Homo sapiens: one gene and its partner. The protein of the gene in region 1 interacts with the protein of each later gene in a biochemical or structural test. Each region holds a gene or a part of one and is shown in the gene's direction. Other genes may lie near its edges. The genes, in order: HSH2D and FES.

The links.
Region 2: of the proteins of HSH2D (region 1) and FES, one has a biochemical effect on the other in vitro, tested with the Homo sapiens proteins (one study listed by BioGRID).

Annotation. Positions count from the first base shown.
Region 1 is NC_000019.10:16,138,091-16,148,418, forward strand, and holds the start of HSH2D (hematopoietic SH2 domain-containing protein), read left to right. Parts: upstream 1-5,594; 5' UTR 5,595-5,684; intron 5,685-10,328. UniProt on the Homo sapiens protein: May be a modulator of the apoptotic response through its ability to affect mitochondrial stability. Adapter protein involved in tyrosine kinase and CD28 signaling. Seems to affect CD28-mediated activation of the RE/AP element of the interleukin-2 promoter.
Region 2 is NC_000015.10:90,877,476-90,887,503, forward strand, and holds the start of FES (tyrosine-protein kinase Fes/Fps), read left to right. Parts: upstream 1-7,028; 5' UTR 7,029-7,069; exon of another isoform or gene 7,070-7,164; intron 7,165-7,561; 5' UTR 7,562-7,570; coding exon 7,571-7,783; intron 7,784-7,936; coding exon 7,937-8,110; intron 8,111-9,485; coding exon 9,486-9,582; intron 9,583-9,711; coding exon 9,712-9,895; intron 9,896-10,028. Other genes in the region: furin isoform 1 preproprotein, read left to right, coding at 52-140, 657-829, 1,289-1,501, 1,969-2,069, 2,196-2,299, 2,392-2,509, 2,619-2,798, 3,216-3,340 and 2 more. UniProt on the Homo sapiens protein: Tyrosine-protein kinase that acts downstream of cell surface receptors and plays a role in the regulation of the actin cytoskeleton, microtubule assembly, cell attachment and cell spreading.

The DNA of each region.
Region 1 (10,328 bases):
CTCTTGACCTCAGGTGATCCACCCACCTTGGCCTCCCAAAGTGCTAGAATTACAGGTGTGAGCCACCGTGTCCAGCCAGTTCTGGACATTTCATATCAATGGAATCATGCACTAGGTGGCCTTTGTGTCTGGCTTCTCTCAGCATCATGTTTTTGGGGCTCATCCACATTGTAGCATGGAGCAGTGCTTCCTTCCTTTCTGTGGCTGAATCATATTTCATGGTGTGGATGATGGAACCACGTTTTGTTTACCCATTCATTCATTCATGGACATTTGGGTTGTTTCCACCGTTTGGACACCTTAGCTGTCATCATCTGTGCCTCAGACATACCAAGTTCTTTCCTACCACAGGGCCTTTGCCCGTGCTGATTTTGTTTGTTTGTTTGAGATGGAGTCTCGCTCTGTTGCCCAGGCTGGAGTGCAGTGGCAAGATCTCAGCTCACTGCACCCTCCGCCTCCCGGGTTCAAGCGATTCTTCTGCCTCAGCCTCCCGAGTAGCTGGGACTACAGGCGTGCGCCACCATGCCCAGCTAATTTTTGTATTTTTGGTAGAGACAGGGTTTCACCATGTTGGCCAGGCTGGTCTCGATCCCTTGACTTCATGATCTGCCTGCCTCAGTCTCCCAAAGTGCTGGGATTACAGGTTTGAGCCACCGCACCCAGCCTGCCCTTGCTATTTTCTTTTCTGCCTGACTGTCCTGCATGTGAACTCATTCAGCATCTGTCTCCTCATAGACTGTGGGCCCTAGAAGGGTGGGGACCATGCCAATCTTGCCTTTTTTTTTTGAGACACAGTCTCACTCTGTGACCCAGGCTGGAGTGCAGTGGCATGATCTCAGCTCACTGCAACCTCCATCTCCCAGTTCAAGCAATTCTTCTGCCTCAGCCTCCTGAGTATCTGGGATTACAGGCATGAGCCACTACGCCCAACTAATTTTTGTGTTTTTAGTATAGACAGGGTTTCCCCATGTTGGCCAGGCTGGTCTTGAACTCCTGACCTCAGGTGATCTGCCCACCTCGGCCTCCCGAAGAGCTGGGATTACAGGCATAAGCCACAGCACCCGGCCCGATCTTGCCTTCTGCTTCATCTGCAGCATCTAGCATGGTGCCCATCCAGAGCTGGGGCTCAGCCAGTGTTTGTGAAATCAATGAATGAATAGAATGAAGGCATTGTAGGAAGCTAAAATCATAAAATTACATCAAGTCCAGGGTTGGGCACAGTGGCTCATGCCTATAATCCCAACACTGGGAGGCTGGGGTGTGAGGATTGCTTGAGCTCAGGCGTTCTAGACCATCCTGGGCAACACAGCAAGACCCTGTCTACAAAATAAAAATTGAAAAATTAACCGGGCATGGTGGTGTGAGCTTGTGATTGCAGCTACTTGGGAGGCTGAGGCGGGAGGATCACTTGAGCCCGGGAGTTTGAGGTTGCAGGGAGCTATGATGGCACAGTGCACTTCAGCCTGGGCAACAGAGTGAGACCTTGTCTCTAAAAAGAATCGCATCAAACCCAGTGTTGGCAGAGCCTAAGGGCTTCCCCACTCCCTGACATGTATGGGCCCAGCATTTTCCCAGCACTAAGATGGCATTGTGGCCACCTCCCCCAAGAGCCACCCCACGTGAATCTGTGAATGGCCCACTTACCAGCTGCGGCCTCTGCTGAGAAGCCCAGATCTGTCTCCCTGGAGAACCTGGTATCAGAGAGAGGGGGCCTTGGAATTCTAGCCCCGTTATCTCCCCATCAGGGCACCTTCGTTTTCCCCTCCACACCCTTCCTTCCTCTGGGGGACGCATGTCCGTTTGCGGGCCGAGGCCTGCGGACACTGAGGGGTGTGGGGGTGATTCTGTTGCGACATCTGAAAGGAAGACGTTAGTTTGTGGGAGACCACATCACCCAAGCAGGTCAGGGGAAGCGAGGTTGGGCCGTTTGTGGTGAGGTCTTAGGGGACTGTGCTAGAGCTGGGCCAGCGTACCCCCATGTTCCTGGAAACTCTAAACCCCATGCAAATAAGAGCCCCGATGGTCAGACTTTCCCAGGAGGATCAGAGAAGTGAAGTGAAGTGAAGGCCAGGCCCGGTGGCTCATGCCTGTAATGCCAGCACTTTGGGAAGTCCAGGCAGGTAGATCGCTTGAGGCCAGGAGTTTGAGGCTGCAGTGAGTTGTACTTGCACCACTGCACTCCAGCCTGGGCAACAGAACAAGATCCTGTCTCAAAAAAATAAAAAATAAAAATAAATAAATAAATACTTCAGGCCTATAATCCCAGCACTTTGGGAGGCCAAGGTGGGCAGACCACTTGAGGTCAGGAGTTCAAGACCAACCTGGCCAACATGGTGAAACCCTGTCTCTACTAAAAATATAAAAATTAGCCAGGAGTGGTGGTGCACACTTATAATCTCAGCTACTGGGGAGACTGAGGCAGGAGAATCGCTTGAACCCGGGAGGTGGAGGTTGCAGTGAGCCAAGATCGCACCACTGTACTCCAGCCGGGGCGATAGAACAAGACATCATCTCAAAAATAAAAAGGCCAGATGCAGCAGCTGACACCTGTAATCCTAACACTTTGGGAGGCTGAGGCGGGAGGATCACTTGAACGAGACCAACCTGGCAACATGACAAAACCCCATCTCTTCAAAAATCCAAAAATTAGCCAGGCGTGGTGGTGGTGCTCCTGTAGTCCCAGCTACTCAGGAGGCTGAGATGGGAGGATCACTTGAGCCCAGGAAGTAGAGGCTGTGGTGAGCTGAGACTGCACCACTGCACTCCAGCCTGGGCAACAGAGTGAGGGGACCCTACTCAAAAAAAAAAGAAGAAGAAAAAGAGATTAGCCACAGAGAGGTGAAGTGAGTTGCCCAAGGCAGCTCAGCCCATGAGGTCTGAGGCCCAAGCCAGAGTCTCCCCCAGGCAAACACAAAGGCCTTGCTTGAATTAAGTCACAACAAAGAGTCCTGATTCTCTCACTCCCAACTCATCTCCATGTGCTGTGCTGGAGAGTTGCCTCTCCTAGCATCTTCACATGATTAAGGAGGGCTATTATGCCCATTGCACAGATGCAGAACTGAGGCTCAGAGAGGCTGAGCAACTCACCTTAGGACACACAGCAGGTGAGTGAGAAGCAGGGCTCCACGTGTCTCCTGCTTAGACCTTGTTGACCACAGAGGGCAGACGAGGTGCTGCTGTTGCCGAGGAGGAGCAGGGGGGTGAGAGAGGCACCCAGGGTGAGCCTGGGGTTATCTAGCCCAGCTGGGCCAGGGCAATAGGCCCTTGGGGAGGCCCCCAGTAGGATCTGGGCCCTTTCTGCCTGAAAGGAGAGGAGGAAGTAGTTTTGTTTGTCTGCCTGGGGTACGAGCACACGGCCAGAGCTGGCCAATCTGTTAGGCACACAGGGCCTGCACCCAGGACCCAAGTGCTGTGTGGGACTTCCCAAAGGGCTTCAGCTTATTTAAAATCAGAAGAAAAAAAACTGAACATCCTAATAATAAATATACAATAAGGAATCCAGCCTGGACCACATCGGTCTTAATGCCAACACAGTTGTAAAATAGAATTTTAAGCTGGCACGGCGGCCCACACCTGTAATCCCAGCACTTTGGGAGGCTGAGGCGGGTGGATCACCTGAGGTCAGGAGTTTGAGACCAGCCTGGCCAACATAGTGAAACCTTGTCTCTACTAAAAATACAAACATTAGCCAGGCGTGTTGGTGGGCACCTCTAATCCCAGCTACTCAGGAGGCTGAGGCAGGAGAGTCACTTGAACCAAGGTGGGCGGATCGCTTGAGCCCCAGGAGTTTGAGACCAGCCTGGGCAACACAGCAAGATCCCATCTCCAAAAAAAATATTTTTTTAATTAGTCAGGTGTGGTGGTGTGTGCCTGTAGTCCCAGCTACTTGGGAGCCTGAGGCAGGAGGATCACTTGAGTCCAGCAGTTCAAGACTGCAGTGAGCTATGATCATACCACTGCACTCCAGCCTGAGTGACAGAGTGAAACTCTGTCTCTAAAATAGGTTAGTCAATTAATAAAAATATTTTAAAATATTTTATAATGGAGGAAGTCCTGGTGTGGACCTATGCGTGCCATGAGACCCCAGCCTGTCCAGGCTCAATTCAGTTTCAAGGCCTTTGTGCCTGCTCTTCCCTCCCCCAGCCTGGGCAATATAGCAAGACCCCATCTCTACAAAAAAATATACTCTTTCTGCACTACGCACTCCCCAAATCAAGATGATTCCTTCTCACCCTCAAATGCCCCTTCCTTCACGTCAGTTAGGTCACCTCTGTGGGTTTGTGCAACTGCTGTTCCCACTTCCTGTTTCCCCTTTGGATTTTTTTGTTTGTTTGGGGTTTTTTGTTTTTTTGTTTTGTTTTGTTTGGTTTTCGTTGGTTTTGTTTTGTTTGAGACGGAGTTACACTCTCGCTGCCCAGGCTGGAGTGCAGTGGTGAGATCTCAGCAAACCGCAACCTCCACCTCCCGGGTTCAAGCGATTCTCCTGCCTCAGCCTCCCAAATAGCTGGGATTACAGGCATGTGTCACCACGCCGGGCTAATTTTGCAGTTTTAGTAGAGACGGGATTTCTCCATGTTGGTCAGGCTGGTCGCGAACTCCTGACCTCAAATGATCTGCCCACCTTGGCCTCCCAAAGTGCTGGGATTACAGGCATGAGCCACCGCACCCAGCTGGTGTTTTTTTGTTTGTTTGTTTTGCGGGGGACAGAATTTCCCTCTGTCATCCAGGCTAAAGTGCAGTGGCGTGATCTCGGCTCACTGCAGCCTCTGCGTCCCTGGTCCAAGCGATTCTCTTGCATCAGCCTCCTGAGTAGCTGGGATTACAGGCACCCGCCACCACGCCTAATTTTTGTATTTTTAGTAGAGACAGGGTTTTACCATGTTGGCCAGCCTGGTCTCAAACTCCTGGCCTCAAATGATCCACCCGCCTCGGCCTCCCAAAGTGCTGGGATTACAGGCGTGAGCCACCGCGCCCAGTTTCTGTTCCCCCTTTGTTGCTTTTGTTTTTGTTTTGAGAAGGAGTCTCACTCCGTTGCCCAGGCTGGAGTGCAATGGTGCGATCTCTGCTCACTGCAACCTCCGCCTCCCGGGTTCAAGCAATTCTTGTGCCTCAGCCTCCTGAGTAGCTGGGATTACAGGCGTGCGCCGCCACACCCGGCTGATTTTCGTATTTTAATAGAGACGGGGTTTTGCCATGTTTGCCAGGCTGGTCTCAAACTCCTGACCTCAAGTGATCCGCCTGCCTCAGCCTGTCAAAGTGCTGGGATTGCAGGTGTGAGCCACCGCACCCGTTCCCCGTTCTCCCTTTGTAATGATGTCTCACTCCTCTTCACTGCTTGATAGATTATAGATGCCAGGAGTCAGGGGGCCTGCACCTGTCTCCGTGTCACCCCTGTGTCCTCCAAACAGCAGGCACACAGTAGGTGCTCAATAACAACTTGCTGGGGGCAAGACAGGAGCAAGCTGTCTCTGCACCTGTGGCACCAGATGCTTTGTTGGACTGCAGACAGGGTGACTTGAGCTGTCCTTGTTCCGCCCCCAGGGCTCACCTGCTTGAGGAAACAGGAACTGCCTCGGGGCAGCCAGCCCCGCCCCATTGACGTGCAGACCTTGAATCGAAACCCAGGCTCCTGCAGGCACTGGCACAGCTACAGCGAGGGCCTCGGCCATCCAAGGGTCTCCCAGGTATGTGACCCAAGAGCCTCAGCCCTCGAGGAGACAGAACGTGGGGGCTGGGCTAGGCCAGAAGGAGGGACAGGGCTAGTGGGGCCTGGGGTGGCAGGAGGGATTTTCTAGGGGCATGGGGGAGAGCTTCGTGGAGGAGGGGGTATTTGTGGTGACCACAAATGGAAAATGGAGCTGGAGTTAGGGAAAAGGGGGTCTTGGCAAGACAACAGCATGAGCAAAGGTATGGAGAGGCAAGAGAGAGAGAGCAAGGATGTCTTTAGGTCTAGAATGTGGGTAGCGGGGAAGTAGAGGAGGCTCCCAGGCCAGGGTCAGGAGCTTGAATTTGAGCATGCGGTCTTTCATCACTAGATAGCTGTTCACCAGCAAAGACCCTTGCACCCTCCTCTGTGCCAGGCCAGCACCAGGACACAGAAAAAAACAACAACACAGGAACCTAGCCCTAAGCCCTGATCCCTAGGAGGCCCTCAGGCTGGTGGAGACAGAGCAAGATAAAGACACTCTAGCTCCATGGAGTCATGGCTGGACCAGAGAGAGGAACAGGGGGGAACGTTGGGGACAGAGAGGGGTGCCAGGGTGTTGTCTGGGGGGAGATGCAGGAAAGCTGCCTGGAGGAGGGGACATTTTTACTGGGTTTTGAAGGATAAATAGGAGCTCTTCCAAGTAAAAAAAAAGAATAAGCCTGTAAACATTACCCCATGATAGGTCACAACTGGATTCATGAATATTGTATATATATCTCTATATATACACAGTGCTAGCTAAACTTTCCTAGGTAAATATCATTATTCCCAAATTAAAGACAGAAATACAGGGACAGAGAGCCATTAAGTGACTTATCTGAGGTCACACAGCGGCTAAGTGGGCGAGCTAGGGTTTGAACCCAGGCCATCTGGGTCGAATTCTAGGCTCTTTTTTTTTTTTTTTTTTTTTTTTGAGACGGAGTCTTGCTCTGTCGCCCAGGCTGGAGTGCAGTGGCTCGATCTCAGCTCACTGCAAGCTCTGCCTCCCGAGTTCACGCCATTCTCCTGCCTCAGCCTCCCAAGTAGCTGAGACTACAGGCGCCCGCCACCACACCCAGCTAATTTTTCGTATTTTTAGTAGAGACGGGGTTTCACCATGTTAGCCAGGATGGTCTCAATCTCCTGACCTCGTGATCTGCCTGCCTCAGCCTCCCAAAGTGCTGAGATTACAGGCATGAGCCACCGCACCTGTCCCAGGCTCTTTTTTTGTTGTTGGTGGTGATGGGTTTTTTTTTTGGGGTTTTTTTTTTTTTTTTTGTGAGACAGAGTTTCGCTCTGTTGCTCAGGCTGGAGTGCAGTGGTGCGATCTTGGCTCACTGCAAACTCTGCCTCCCGAGTTCAGATGATTCTCCTGCCTCAGCCTCCTGAGTAGCTGAGACTACAGGCACATGCCACTGTAAGTTTTGTATTTTTATTTCATATTTATTTATTTTGAGATGGAGTCTTGCTCTGTTGCCCAGGCTGGAGTGCAGTGGCTCGATCTCAGCTCACTGCAACCTCCGCCTCCCAGATTCACGCAATTCTCCTGCCTCAGCCTCCTGAGTAGCTGGGATTACAGGGGTGAGCCACCTTGCCCAGATAATGATTGTCTTTTTATTAGAGATGGGGTTTCACCATGTTGGCCAGGCTGGTCTCAAACTCCCAGCCTCAGGCAATCCGCCTGCCTCAGGCTCTGACAGTGCTGGGATTACAGGTGTGAGCTACTGCACCCAGCCTCCAATTCCAGGCTCTTAATCATTTTGTCACCCTGCTTTATTAAACATTTCTTAATACAGTTATTTAATTTTGGTTGCCCCAGAATTCCCTCAGGCCATACCCCAGAGGGTATGCTTGACATCTGGTTGGAGAAAGTCAATATTGACTGCCATTGGTCAACAGACCCCGCCTCCTCATAGAGACAGCCCAGTAAAAAGATCTTTTGAGATATTGAAACATTAGATGGGGCCAATGGGTGGAGGGAGTGAGCTCCAGTTTAAGGACAGAATTTATGGTGAGTGGCCGGGCGCAGTGGCTCACGCCTGTAATCCCAGCACTTTGGGAGGCCAAGGTGGGTGGATCACTTGAGGTCAGGATTTGGAGACCAGCCTGGCCAACATGGTGAAACCCCATCCCTGCTAAAAATACAAAAATGATCCAGGCGTGGTGGCACATGCCTGTAATCCCAGCTATTCAAGAGGCTAAGGCAGGAGAATCACTTGAACCTGGGAGGCGGAAGTTGCAGTGAGCTGAGATCGCGCCACTGCACTCCAGCCTGGGCAACAGAGCGAGATTCCATCTCAAAAAAAAAAAAAAAAAAGAATTAAGGGTGAGCAAGAGGGGTCCTGAAGGAACTATCTAGCAAGATACAATCCTTTGGCTTGTCTTACACTCACTTAATAATGTTTTGCAAAACGGTGCTGCTTTCTCTCTCCAGCTCTGTCATTGGTACACAAAGTCCCATGGTACCGCTTGCTTAAAATTGTCAAGAAAGTGTGTGAATTAATGATGCATCTGACATATCGTAGGTGTGCCATGAGTGGCTACAACGTGTAGTGACGTTGGTGGCAGAAGTGACTGTCTGAAGCCACATTTCTCTGGTGTTTAATGAAACCAAGGCAGCCAGGCACTGTGGCTCATGCCTGTGATCCCAGTATGTTGGGAGGCTGAGGTGTTAGGATTGCTTGAGCCCAGGAGTTCAAAGCCAGACTGGACAACAGAGCAAGACCCTGTTTCTACAAAAAAATTTTCAAAATTAGCCAGGCATGGTACTGCATGCCTGTAGTCCCAACTACTCAGGAGGTTGAAGTGGGAGGATTGCTTGAGCCTAGGAGGTTGAGGCTGCAGTGAGCATGAGCTGTGATTGCACCATTGCACACTCCAGCCTCAGGAACAGAGGGAAACCCTGTCTCAAAAAAAAAGAAAGAAAGAAATCAGGGCAACCCTTTTTGACCACCACCGTTGGGTCAGCTGTTTATTTCGTTCACTTGCCATTTTGTCATTTCCTTATTCCTCCAGGGGCCTTGATATTTACTTAATATTTAAATACTCTACTCTTTTTTTTTTTTTTGAGATGGAGTCTCACTCTGCCCCCCAGGCTGGAGTGCAATGGCGCGATCTTGGCTCACTGCAACCTCTGCCTCCTGAGTTCTAGCAATTCTCCTGCCTCAGCCTCCTGAGTAGCTGGGATTACAGGCACCCACCACCTCATCTGGCTAATTTTTGTATTTTTAGTAGAGATGGGGTTTCACCATGTTGGCCAGGCTGGCCTCGAACTCCTGACCTCAGGTGATCCACCTGCCTCAGCCTCCCAAAGTGCTGGGATTACAGGCGTGAACCACCATGCCCAGCTCTAAATACTCTATTCTTAAATTTCAAAACATTTATTTATAAAATGAACTTTCTAGTCCTTGCAATAATGGCATAAAAGGCTGGGCACAATGGCTCACACCTGTAATGCTAGCACTTTGGGAGGCTGACACAGGTGGATTTCTTGAGTCCAGGAGTTTGAGACCAATGTGGGCAGCAAGGTGAAACCCCATCTCTACAAAAATACAAAAATTAGCCAGGCGTGGTGGCACATGCCTGTGGTCCCAGCTACTTGGGGGACTGAGGTGGGAGAATCACTTGAGGGAAGAAGGTCGAGGCTGCAGTGAGCCAAGATGGGGCCACTGCACTCCAGCCTGGGTGACAGAGTGAGACCCTGTCTCAAAAAAAAAAAAAAAGAAAAAAAACACAATGGCATAAGAAGAATAAAAGGAAAAGTCCTTGAAGGCCTTTGGGGATGAGCCAATGAATGAATGTGTAAAAACTATCAGGCACATAGTAGGTGCCCAAAAAATCACAAGCCAGTGGTTTTTTTTTTGTTTTGTTTTGTTTTGTTTTGTTTTGAGACGGAGTCTCACTCTGTTGCCCAGGCTGGAGTGCAGTGGTGCAATCTCGGCTCACTGCAGCCTCCGCCTCCTGGGGTCAAGTGATTCTCGTGCCTCAGCCTCCCAAGTAGCTGTGATTATAGGCACAGGCCGCTGTGCCCAGCTCATTTTTGTATTTTTGTAGTGACAGGGTTTCACCACGTGGCCCAGGCTGGTCTTGAACTCCTGATCTCAGGTAATCCACCTGCCTTGGCCTCCCAAAGTGCTAGGATTACAGGCGTGAGCCACCACGCCCAGCCACACAAGCCAGTTTTTTGTTGTTGTTGTTTTTGAAACATGGTCTTGCTCTGTTCCCCAGGCTGGAGTGCAGTGGCACAACCACAGCTCACTGCAGCCATATCCTCCTGAGCTCAAGGGATCCTCCCACCTCAGCCTCCTGAGTAGCTGGGACTACAGGCATGCACCACCACACCCAGCTAATTTTTAAATTTTATTTTATTGATTTATTTGCTTATTTATTTTTTGAGGAGTCTCACTCTGTCGCCCAGGCTGGAGCACAGTGGCATGATCTTGGCTCACTGCAACCTCTGCCCCCCGGGTTCAAGTGATTCTCCTGCCTCAGCCTCCGGAGTAGCTGGGATTACAAGTGCCCACCACCACACCCAGCTAATTTTTGTATTTTTAGTAGAGACAGGGTTTCATGATGTTGGCCGGGCTGGTCTCAAACTCCTGACCTCAGGTGATCTACCCACCTTGGCTTCCCAAAGTGCTGA
Region 2 (10,028 bases), on another chromosome or scaffold:
GCCCTGTTCACCCCATTTGTTCTACTCATGCTACGTGCTTGGCCCTGGCAGGCACGGCACACGGTGTGCGGGGGAAGTGGCTGCGGTGGCCAACAACGGTGTCTGTGGTGTAGGTGTGGCCTACAACGCCCGCATTGGAGGTGAGTGTGGGCCTGGGCCACCCTGTCTTCAGGAGGGCCCTTCAGTGGAATTTTTCCCGCCCACTTCCCATCTGGCCAATGCCTGCCACTTTCCCACTGTGGATCCTTTGATCACGTGGCTGTTCCATGGAGGGTTCCCAAAGGGTCAAAGACTGAAAGAGCTGGACCCCTGTGGAGTGAGGGTTTCCTAGCAGGAGTCTCCTGAAATCCTCACGACCCACTGTGAGTCCTCACGTGGCAGATCCTTGATCACCAGGCTCTTTTGGGAACCAGAGACTCTTTCTAGTCCTGAATGTGTGGTTGGGGGCAGGAGGTGTTCTCTTTTTCCTTCTCTGGGTCTTGTCTTTGAAAGGCAGAGGCAAACAGGTAGTTGGGGGTTCAGGGTTTCTCAGCATCAGCCTCCACCCTTCCCTTACTCATCCCCTGGGGTGCAGGGCTGGGTGTGCTCCTTGGGGTGGGGGCCCTGACAGCTGGACCCATGCAGCATCCCTCTTCGTGCCCCCCCTTCACGGCCAGGGGTGCGCATGCTGGATGGCGAGGTGACAGATGCAGTGGAGGCACGCTCGCTGGGCCTGAACCCCAACCACATCCACATCTACAGTGCCAGCTGGGGCCCCGAGGATGACGGCAAGACAGTGGATGGGCCAGCCCGCCTCGCCGAGGAGGCCTTCTTCCGTGGGGTTAGCCAGGTGAGGTGGGGATCTGTCCAGCCCCTGCGGGCAGGTTGGGTGCTGTCTTCCGTACCTATCTTGTGTTTTTTGGTTTGTTTTATTTATTCTCATGTTTAACTTTACACAAAGCATGTTTATTGAAACATTAAGGGACAGAAGAAGAGTAGAGTGCATATACCACTTGGACTTGCCTAATTAAAAAACACATTTTTTTTAGAAATGAGGTCTTGCTGTGTTACCCAGGCTGGTCTCAAACTCCTGGCCTCAAGCGATCCTCCCGCCTTGGCCTCTTGGTCTGATTTTTTGTGTGCCTAGATAGACATATTTGGATACATACTTGATCCACCAGGGATCTCACAGGGGACAGGAGGTTCCCAGAGAATGAGGCTCCAGCCTTCCCAGTTTTCCAGCAGTGTCCTCCTGCCAGCCCTCCCTCAAGTCCCAATCTTGAATGACCCCAGCCCACTCTGTCCACAGGGCCGAGGGGGGCTGGGCTCCATCTTTGTCTGGGCCTCGGGGAACGGGGGCCGGGAACATGACAGCTGCAACTGCGACGGCTACACCAACAGTATCTACACGCTGTCCATCAGCAGCGCCACGCAGTTTGGCAACGTGCCGTGGTACAGCGAGGCCTGCTCGTCCACACTGGCCACGACCTACAGCAGTGGCAACCAGAATGAGAAGCAGATCGTGAGTCTTACCTGGGGGTGGGGGCTGGGGAGATGGGGCTGCTGGCTGGCTCTGTCCAGCACCCTCTTTTGGAGGCTGTCTGCCTCCACCCCCATGTGGCTGGGTGATAGTGGCTCAGGCATCATGCAACATGAACTCTGGGGCTCTGTAGGTTCTTGGAGGCCATGGAGCCATCTCTGAAGACTTTGAAAAGCCTAGACTCTCTCTAAAAACATACTTTGTTCTTATTCATCTCCACCCTCTAGTTGAACCCCCTTATTCCTTTGGAAAATGAGGCCCAGGAGGGGCTCGTCATTAGCATGTCCACGGCAAGTTAGCAAGGCAGCAGCTGGGACCTGGGGTTCTTGGCCCTGGCTCCCCATACCATCTGTGGTGCCCAGGGCCTGTATGCAGAGGGAGGGTAGGCAGGTGGCTCCTCTAGCCCCCTCCACCCATCACAGGCCCCAATATGATTCTCTTCCTGGCAGGTGACGACTGACTTGCGGCAGAAGTGCACGGAGTCTCACACGGGCACCTCAGCCTCTGCCCCCTTAGCAGCCGGCATCATTGCTCTCACCCTGGAGGCCAAGTAAGTGGGTGGGGGCCAGCGGCAACCCTGTCCCTACCAGCACTCTCTGTAGGGCAGCCCTTAGGGCAGCTGGAGAGCTGCTCCCAAAAAAGACTGATCCCCAGCCTCTCCCTTCCTTCTTTGCAGTAAGAACCTCACATGGCGGGACATGCAACACCTGGTGGTACAGACCTCGAAGCCAGCCCACCTCAATGCCAACGACTGGGCCACCAATGGTGTGGGCCGGAAAGGTGAGGGCAGGCTGGCCCGGCAGGCTGGATGTGGAGTTAGGTAGAAGGCACTCTGTGCCTGACAGCTGACCCTACCTTCCCTGTCCCCACAGTGAGCCACTCATATGGCTACGGGCTTTTGGACGCAGGCGCCATGGTGGCCCTGGCCCAGAATTGGACCACAGTGGCCCCCCAGCGGAAGTGCATCATCGACATCCTCACCGAGCCCAAGTGAGGGCTGGACCCAGGCTGGGAGGGGGCCAGTGGGACCTGAGAGTCGCAGGGGGTGCCCGCTGGTCCCTCTGGGCCAGGCTGACCATCATGGTGCTCTCCTGCACAGAGACATCGGGAAACGGCTCGAGGTGCGGAAGACCGTGACCGCGTGCCTGGGCGAGCCCAACCACATCACTCGGCTGGAGCACGCTCAGGCGCGGCTCACCCTGTCCTATAATCGCCGTGGCGACCTGGCCATCCACCTGGTCAGCCCCATGGGCACCCGCTCCACCCTGCTGGCAGCCAGGTGCTTGCTCTGTCCCTGCCCGCCCTGCCCAGCGCCGCCGCCTCTCACAGCCCGCGTGCTTGCCTTTGCTCGCTCACACGGCCCAGGGGGCACTGAGTGCTACTCAGTGGGGCACTCTTGGCATTTTGGGAGGGACAATTTTGTCCTGTGGGACTGTCCCATGTTGCAGGAATCCCTGGCTTGCAACCATTTAATGTCAGTAGTGTGCCCCACCTTGTGCGGTGCCTGTGTACCTTTCTAGAATCCCCCAGTTGAGCACGTCTGGCTCACTGAGAAACAGCCAAGCCAGCAGGCACTTCTGGCCCCATGGGGTTGGTCTGCGTGGGGGAAGGGTGTGTGGCCCATGTGCTGTGGGTTAGATGTCCCTGGCTTGGGGTCCCGCAGAGGCCTCAGGGCTGTGTGCACTCCCCTCCCCAGGCCACATGACTACTCCGCAGATGGGTTTAATGACTGGGCCTTCATGACAACTCATTCCTGGGATGAGGATCCCTCTGGCGAGTGGGTCCTAGAGATTGAAAACACCAGCGAAGCCAACAACTATGGTACTGGGGGCACTTGAGGGGTAGGGGTACGAGGTGGAGGGCTGGCAGGATCTCGAGCACTGGGTGTGGTGCCAGCACTGTCTTAACTCTTGCCTCCTCCCCGCTCTGGAACAGGGACGCTGACCAAGTTCACCCTCGTACTCTATGGCACCGCCCCTGAGGGGCTGCCCGTACCTCCAGAAAGCAGTGGCTGCAAGACCCTCACGTCCAGTCAGGCCTGTGTGGGTCAGTAGTGGGTGCTGTTGGGCTTTGGGGGCCTGAGTCTGGGGGTAAGGCGGGTGCCTGTCCTGAAGCCCAGCTCTAACAGAAAAAAGTCTCAAGAGACCTAGGGCCCCTGGGGCTCTTGGGATGACCACAGTCCTGGGGCTGGAGGATCCTGGGGATGTGGTGACTTGGCTTGGGGCTGCTGTGGTCCTGGGGCTACAGTCTGTTTAGCTGACACACACTTGCCCTCTCTCCCACGCCGGCAGTGTGCGAGGAAGGCTTCTCCCTGCACCAGAAGAGCTGTGTCCAGCACTGCCCTCCAGGGTTCGCCCCCCAAGTCCTCGATACGCACTATAGCACCGAGAATGACGTGGAGACCATCCGGGCCAGCGTCTGCGCCCCCTGCCACGCCTCATGTGCCACATGCCAGGGGCCGGCCCTGACAGACTGCCTCAGCTGCCCCAGCCACGCCTCCTTGGACCCTGTGGAGCAGACTTGCTCCCGGCAAAGCCAGAGCAGCCGAGAGTCCCCGCCACAGCAGCAGCCACCTCGGCTGCCCCCGGAGGTGGAGGCGGGGCAACGGCTGCGGGCAGGGCTGCTGCCCTCACACCTGCCTGAGGTGGTGGCCGGCCTCAGCTGCGCCTTCATCGTGCTGGTCTTCGTCACTGTCTTCCTGGTCCTGCAGCTGCGCTCTGGCTTTAGTTTTCGGGGGGTGAAGGTGTACACCATGGACCGTGGCCTCATCTCCTACAAGGGGCTGCCCCCTGAAGCCTGGCAGGAGGAGTGCCCGTCTGACTCAGAAGAGGACGAGGGCCGGGGCGAGAGGACCGCCTTTATCAAAGACCAGAGCGCCCTCTGATGAGCCCACTGCCCACCCCCTCAAGCCAATCCCCTCCTTGGGCACTTTTTAATTCACCAAAGTATTTTTTTATCTTGGGACTGGGTTTGGACCCCAGCTGGGAGGCAAGAGGGGTGGAGACTGCTTCCCATCCTACCCTCGGGCCCACCTGGCCACCTGAGGTGGGCCCAGGACCAGCTGGGGCGTGGGGAGGGCCGTACCCCACCCTCAGCACCCCTTCCATGTGGAGAAAGGAGTGAAACCTTTAGGGCAGCTTGCCCCGGCCCCGGCCCCAGCCAGAGTTCCTGCGGAGTGAAGAGGGGCAGCCCTTGCTTGTTGGGATTCCTGACCCAGGCCGCAGCTCTTGCCCTTCCCTGTCCCTCTAAAGCAATAATGGTCCCATCCAGGCAGTCGGGGGCTGGCCTAGGAGATATCTGAGGGAGGAGGCCACCTCTCCAAGGGCTTCTGCACCCTCCACCCTGTCCCCCAGCTCTGGTGAGTCTTGGCGGCAGCAGCCATCATAGGAAGGGACCAAGGCAAGGCAGGTGCCTCCAGGTGTGCACGTGGCATGTGGCCTGTGGCCTGTGTCCCATGACCCACCCCTGTGCTCCGTGCCTCCACCACCACTGGCCACCAGGCTGGCGCAGCCAAGGCCGAAGCTCTGGCTGAACCCTGTGCTGGTGTCCTGACCACCCTCCCCTCTCTTGCACCCGCCTCTCCCGTCAGGGCCCAAGTCCCTGTTTTCTGAGCCCGGGCTGCCTGGGCTGTTGGCACTCACAGACCTGGAGCCCCTGGGTGGGTGGTGGGGAGGGGCGCTGGCCCAGCCGGCCTCTCTGGCCTCCCACCCGATGCTGCTTTCCCCTGTGGGGATCTCAGGGGCTGTTTGAGGATATATTTTCACTTTGTGATTATTTCACTTTAGATGCTGATGATTTGTTTTTGTATTTTTAATGGGGGTAGCAGCTGGACTACCCACGTTCTCACACCCACCGTCCGCCCTGCTCCTCCCTGGCTGCCCTGGCCCTGAGGTGTGGGGGCTGCAGCATGTTGCTGAGGAGTGAGGAATAGTTGAGCCCCAAGTCCTGAAGAGGCGGGCCAGCCAGGCGGGCTCAAGGAAAGGGGGTCCCAGTGGGAGGGGCAGGCTGACATCTGTGTTTCAAGTGGGGCTCGCCATGCCGGGGGTTCATAGGTCACTGGCTCTCCAAGTGCCAGAGGTGGGCAGGTGGTGGCACTGAGCCCCCCCAACACTGTGCCCTGGTGGAGAAAGCACTGACCTGTCATGCCCCCCTCAAACCTCCTCTTCTGACGTGCCTTTTGCACCCCTCCCATTAGGACAATCAGTCCCCTCCCATCTGGGAGTCCCCTTTTCTTTTCTACCCTAGCCATTCCTGGTACCCAGCCATCTGCCCAGGGGTGCCCCCTCCTCTCCCATCCCCCTGCCCTCGTGGCCAGCCCGGCTGGTTTTGTAAGATGCTGGGTTGGTGCACAGTGATTTTTTTCTTGTAATTTAAACAGGCCCAGCATTGCTGGTTCTATTTAATGGACATGAGATAATGTTAGAGGTTTTAAAGTGATTAAACGTGCAGACTATGCAAACCAGGCCCAGTCTCCAGTGTGGTACCGTTGCTCCTGCATCGCAGCTGAGGATAGGGGGCCAGTTAGGCCTACACAGTGGCCTGCCTGCCTGGATGTGGGCCCAAGTCAGAAGGCCAAAGTCCTCCAAGGGGCGGGAGGATGCGCCAGCCCCTAGTGGAGGAGCTGGTGCCCCTGGGGTGGGGCTGGTGACCCCTGGTCCTCAGGAGCTGAGCACTAAACTCCCAAAGTCCTGGTTTCCAGCAGTGTGAAGAACTGGGCCTATTGTGTCTTCCTGGGCTGAAGTGATCTGGTCGCCACAGGCTATAGGGCTGAGGCCTAAGGTGGAGGGAGGCCTGACTGAATCAAGATGACTTCTTGTGGGGAGCCTGAGTCCCAAATGGAAAACTCCACGCCTGTCCGCTCCCCAACCCCTGCCCCTTGATTTCCCCAGGTCTCCCTTGGGACAGGAAGCCCCTGCCTGGGGGTAGGAGGATGGGGACAAAACCACTAGGATCTGTATCCGAGAAGCAGTCTCTGTTCGGGATATTTACTTGGAAATTTTATTCAAATGGAAGCTGGCGCCTGAGCCTCTCCTTAGGGAATTCCGTGAGGTGGGGAGGGCTGGGACCAGGGTTCCCTCTTTCTCTTCTGCGGTGGCCCTGGCCTGGTGCTAGGACTGCGCGCCTCCCCTCAGTACCCGCGGACACCCTGGGCTTCCCTGGGCCCAGCATCTGCCTGGGGCCTCGCCCTGGGCTCCCCCTCCTGACCCCCACCTTGCGCCCCTTCCCGGTGTTCCCGGGGCGCTGCCGGGCCCTGGGGCCTGCGGGGCGCGGGCGGCTCTTGGCTGGGCCATTCTTTCCCGGCCCCCTCCTCCCTTCCGTTTCCGTGGCCGTGCGGCCGGCTAGAGGCTGCGGCCCAGCGCGGAGCAGGGGGGCTGGCAGGCGTCGGGGCGGTCGGGCCGGTCCCGCCCGCCCCTTCCCCTCCACAGGCCCGCCCCGGGGCCTGGGCCAACTGAAACCGCGGGAGGAGGAAGCGCGGAATCAGGAACTGGCCGGGGTCCGCACCGGGCCTGAGTCGGTCCGAGGCCGTCCCAGGAGCAGCTGCCCGTGCGGGTACCTCTAGCCCCGGGGCCTGGAGGAGCGGTGGGAGCTGGGGGCGCGGCAGGCAGGGGCAGAGCAGGCGTTCCGAGGGCCAGAGACCCACCCAGGTGGGGGTAGGGGCCGCGGAAGGGCGGGGATGGCCGCAGGGGCAGGGCTCAGGCTGTGGGCGCCTGAGGCTTCAGCTGGGGCAGGCTTGGCCTGTCGAGGACCTGGGCAAGGGTGTCCCTGTAAGGGGTGGTGGGTGGAAGGGCCTGGGGAGGGAGGCTCCAGGTTGGCTCCTGTTCCCGAACGTGCGGAGGAGACCCTGACGCTAAGGAAGCAATGAGGGCCAGTCCCCAGGCCAGGCTGCTGCTGGGTACCCATGGCTGCGTGTGAGCGAGGCAGGACCCCACCTCCTCCCCGTCTGCAGTCCATCCTGACCCTACAGTCCCCAGTCTCCTCGTCCCATGCCTCCGTCTCCAGCTGCTGCCTTGCCTCCAGGGATGGCCCCTTTTCTGTCCCCAGAACAGCACTATGGGCTTCTCTTCCGAGCTGTGCAGCCCCCAGGGCCACGGGGTCCTGCAGCAAATGCAGGAGGCCGAGCTTCGTCTACTGGAGGGCATGAGAAAGTGGATGGCCCAGCGGGTCAAGAGTGACAGGGAGTATGCAGGACTGCTTCACCACATGTCCCTGCAGGACAGTGGGGGCCAGAGCCGGGCCATCAGCCCTGACAGCCCCATCAGTCAGGTGGGTCTCTATGGGACTCTGGTGGGTGCTGGCTGTATCTGCCTTCTCCTTCCTCTCCTGGGGGCCCTCTGGGGCAGTGGCTGGAGATCTGGCAGGCCAATGCTTGGGAGCCATTGTGCCCCCCTCCCTGCCTCCCCCATCTGTGCTGTATAGTCCTGGGCTGAGATCACCAGCCAAACTGAGGGCCTGAGCCGCTTGCTGCGGCAGCACGCAGAGGATCTGAACTCAGGGCCCCTGAGCAAGCTGAGCCTGCTCATCCGGGAACGGCAGCAGCTTCGCAAGACCTACAGCGAGCAGTGGCAGCAGCTGCAGCAGGAGCTCACCAAGGTGAGCGGGCAGCACTGGGGCTTCGGTCATTTCTGTCTAAATTTTGAGCCTCGAAGGGGTTGTTTTGCACAAGAGGCCCTGGATTCACTGGGGAAGTGTAAGTCCCTGACCGCAGGCCTGGCTTGCTCTAACCTTGATGCAGCTTCCTCTCTTCCTTCCCCTACGTTGAGCTGGCTTGCAGCAAGGCCTCTCTGTGCTTTTTCTGTGCCTGGGCAAAGTGCTGGGAGTGTAAGGATGAGTGACCGGTCACGTGCCTGGGAGAAGCTCAGAATCGGTACTCGCCTCCACACTGTGCCATCTGGCTCTGGGTTCTGAGAGTCAGGGAGAGGAATGAGGGTCAGTCTGTTTGCCTTCGACCTAGGCAGCCTCCTCTCAGGGCCCCAGAGACTGGGCAGCAGCATGGCCCCCCGAAGGTCGAGGATTCGGGCCGTGAAGTCAGCCTGCCTAGGTTTGAATCCCACCCAGCTCCTCAGTCTAGAGGCTGTGTGATTTGGAACTATTTATCTGGGAGCCTAGTGCCCCCATTCAGTGTGCTGGTCACCCTCCCTGCACCACACCCCTTCCTCAAGTGCAGAGCCCAGCCTTGCCATGGACCCACAGCGGCCCCTGGTGGCCACCCTGGCCCCATTCCTCGCCCCAAAAGATCATCTGATTCAAGGGTGGGCCCATTTTTATAAAGTTTTGCTGGAACACAGCTATGCCCTTTTGTTTTCATATTGTCTGTGACTACAATGACAGAGTTGAGTAATTGTGACAGAGGCTCTATGGCCTACAAGCGTAAAATATTTATTTACTATCTGGCCCTTTAAGAAAAAGACTGATCTAGTCGAGGAATCTAGCTCAGTTACAGATGGGGAAACTGAGGTTGGGCGCTTGCCCAACATATCCCAGCACATAAACAGGAGAACTGGGACGAGAACACTGATCTCGGGCTGTCATCTATTCCTACTGCCAAGAACATAATTTGCAGGACCCAGTGCAAAGTGAAATTGTGGGGGTCTTTGTTAAAAGATTGCTAGGAATTTCCAGGTGGCAATAATGGAGAATGAAACCAAGCACAGGGCCCTTCTACATGTGGAGCCCCGTGTGACTGCACAGGCCGTGCACACCTGCAACTGGCCCTGCCTGCCACCAGGCTACCACTGTCAGTCCAAGGAGGGACCATTGTAGCCTGTAGTCTACCTCTTTGCCTCCCCAAGGGGTCTGTCTTTAACAGGCTCTCTGATCTTTGACTCTCACGTCAGCAGCCAGCTTTCCCAGAAGTCTCCAGGTGCTCCTTGCCTGACGACAGGACCTTTCCAGGGCTTCACCCCAGGCAAGAATCTTCCACAACTGGGGACCTGCTGCCCCACACTGGCCTCTCCTCTCTCCCTAGACCCACAGCCAGGACATTGAGAAGCTGAAGAGCCAGTACCGAGCTCTGGCACGGGACAGTGCCCAAGCCAAGCGCAAGTACCAGGAGGCCAGCAAAGGTTCGTGGCTTCCCTTGCTGGCAGGGAGGGAATCCGAAGCCAGTGCTGACCTGTCCTTGGGTACCCAGAGAGTGGGGGCTGCCTGGGCCTCCATGCTGTCATCTATACCCCTTGCCCCCCTTCTGGCAGACAAGGACCGTGACAAGGCTAAGGACAAGTATGTGCGCAGCCTGTGGAAGCTCTTTGCTCACCACAACCGCTATGTGCTGGGCGTGCGGGCTGCGCAGCTACACCACCAGCACCACCACCAGCTCCTGCTGCCCGGCCTGCTGCGGTCACTGCAGGACCTGCACGAGGAGATGGCTTGCATCCTGTAAGCCCGCAGCCCCGTCCCCTGGCCCCCACCCTTGAGCAGCCCTAAGCCCAGCCATCAGGCCCAGAGGCAGGACCCAGAAAATCCATTGCTGGGAAGGTGCTGGCCATGTAACCACATGAGAACGGGACCT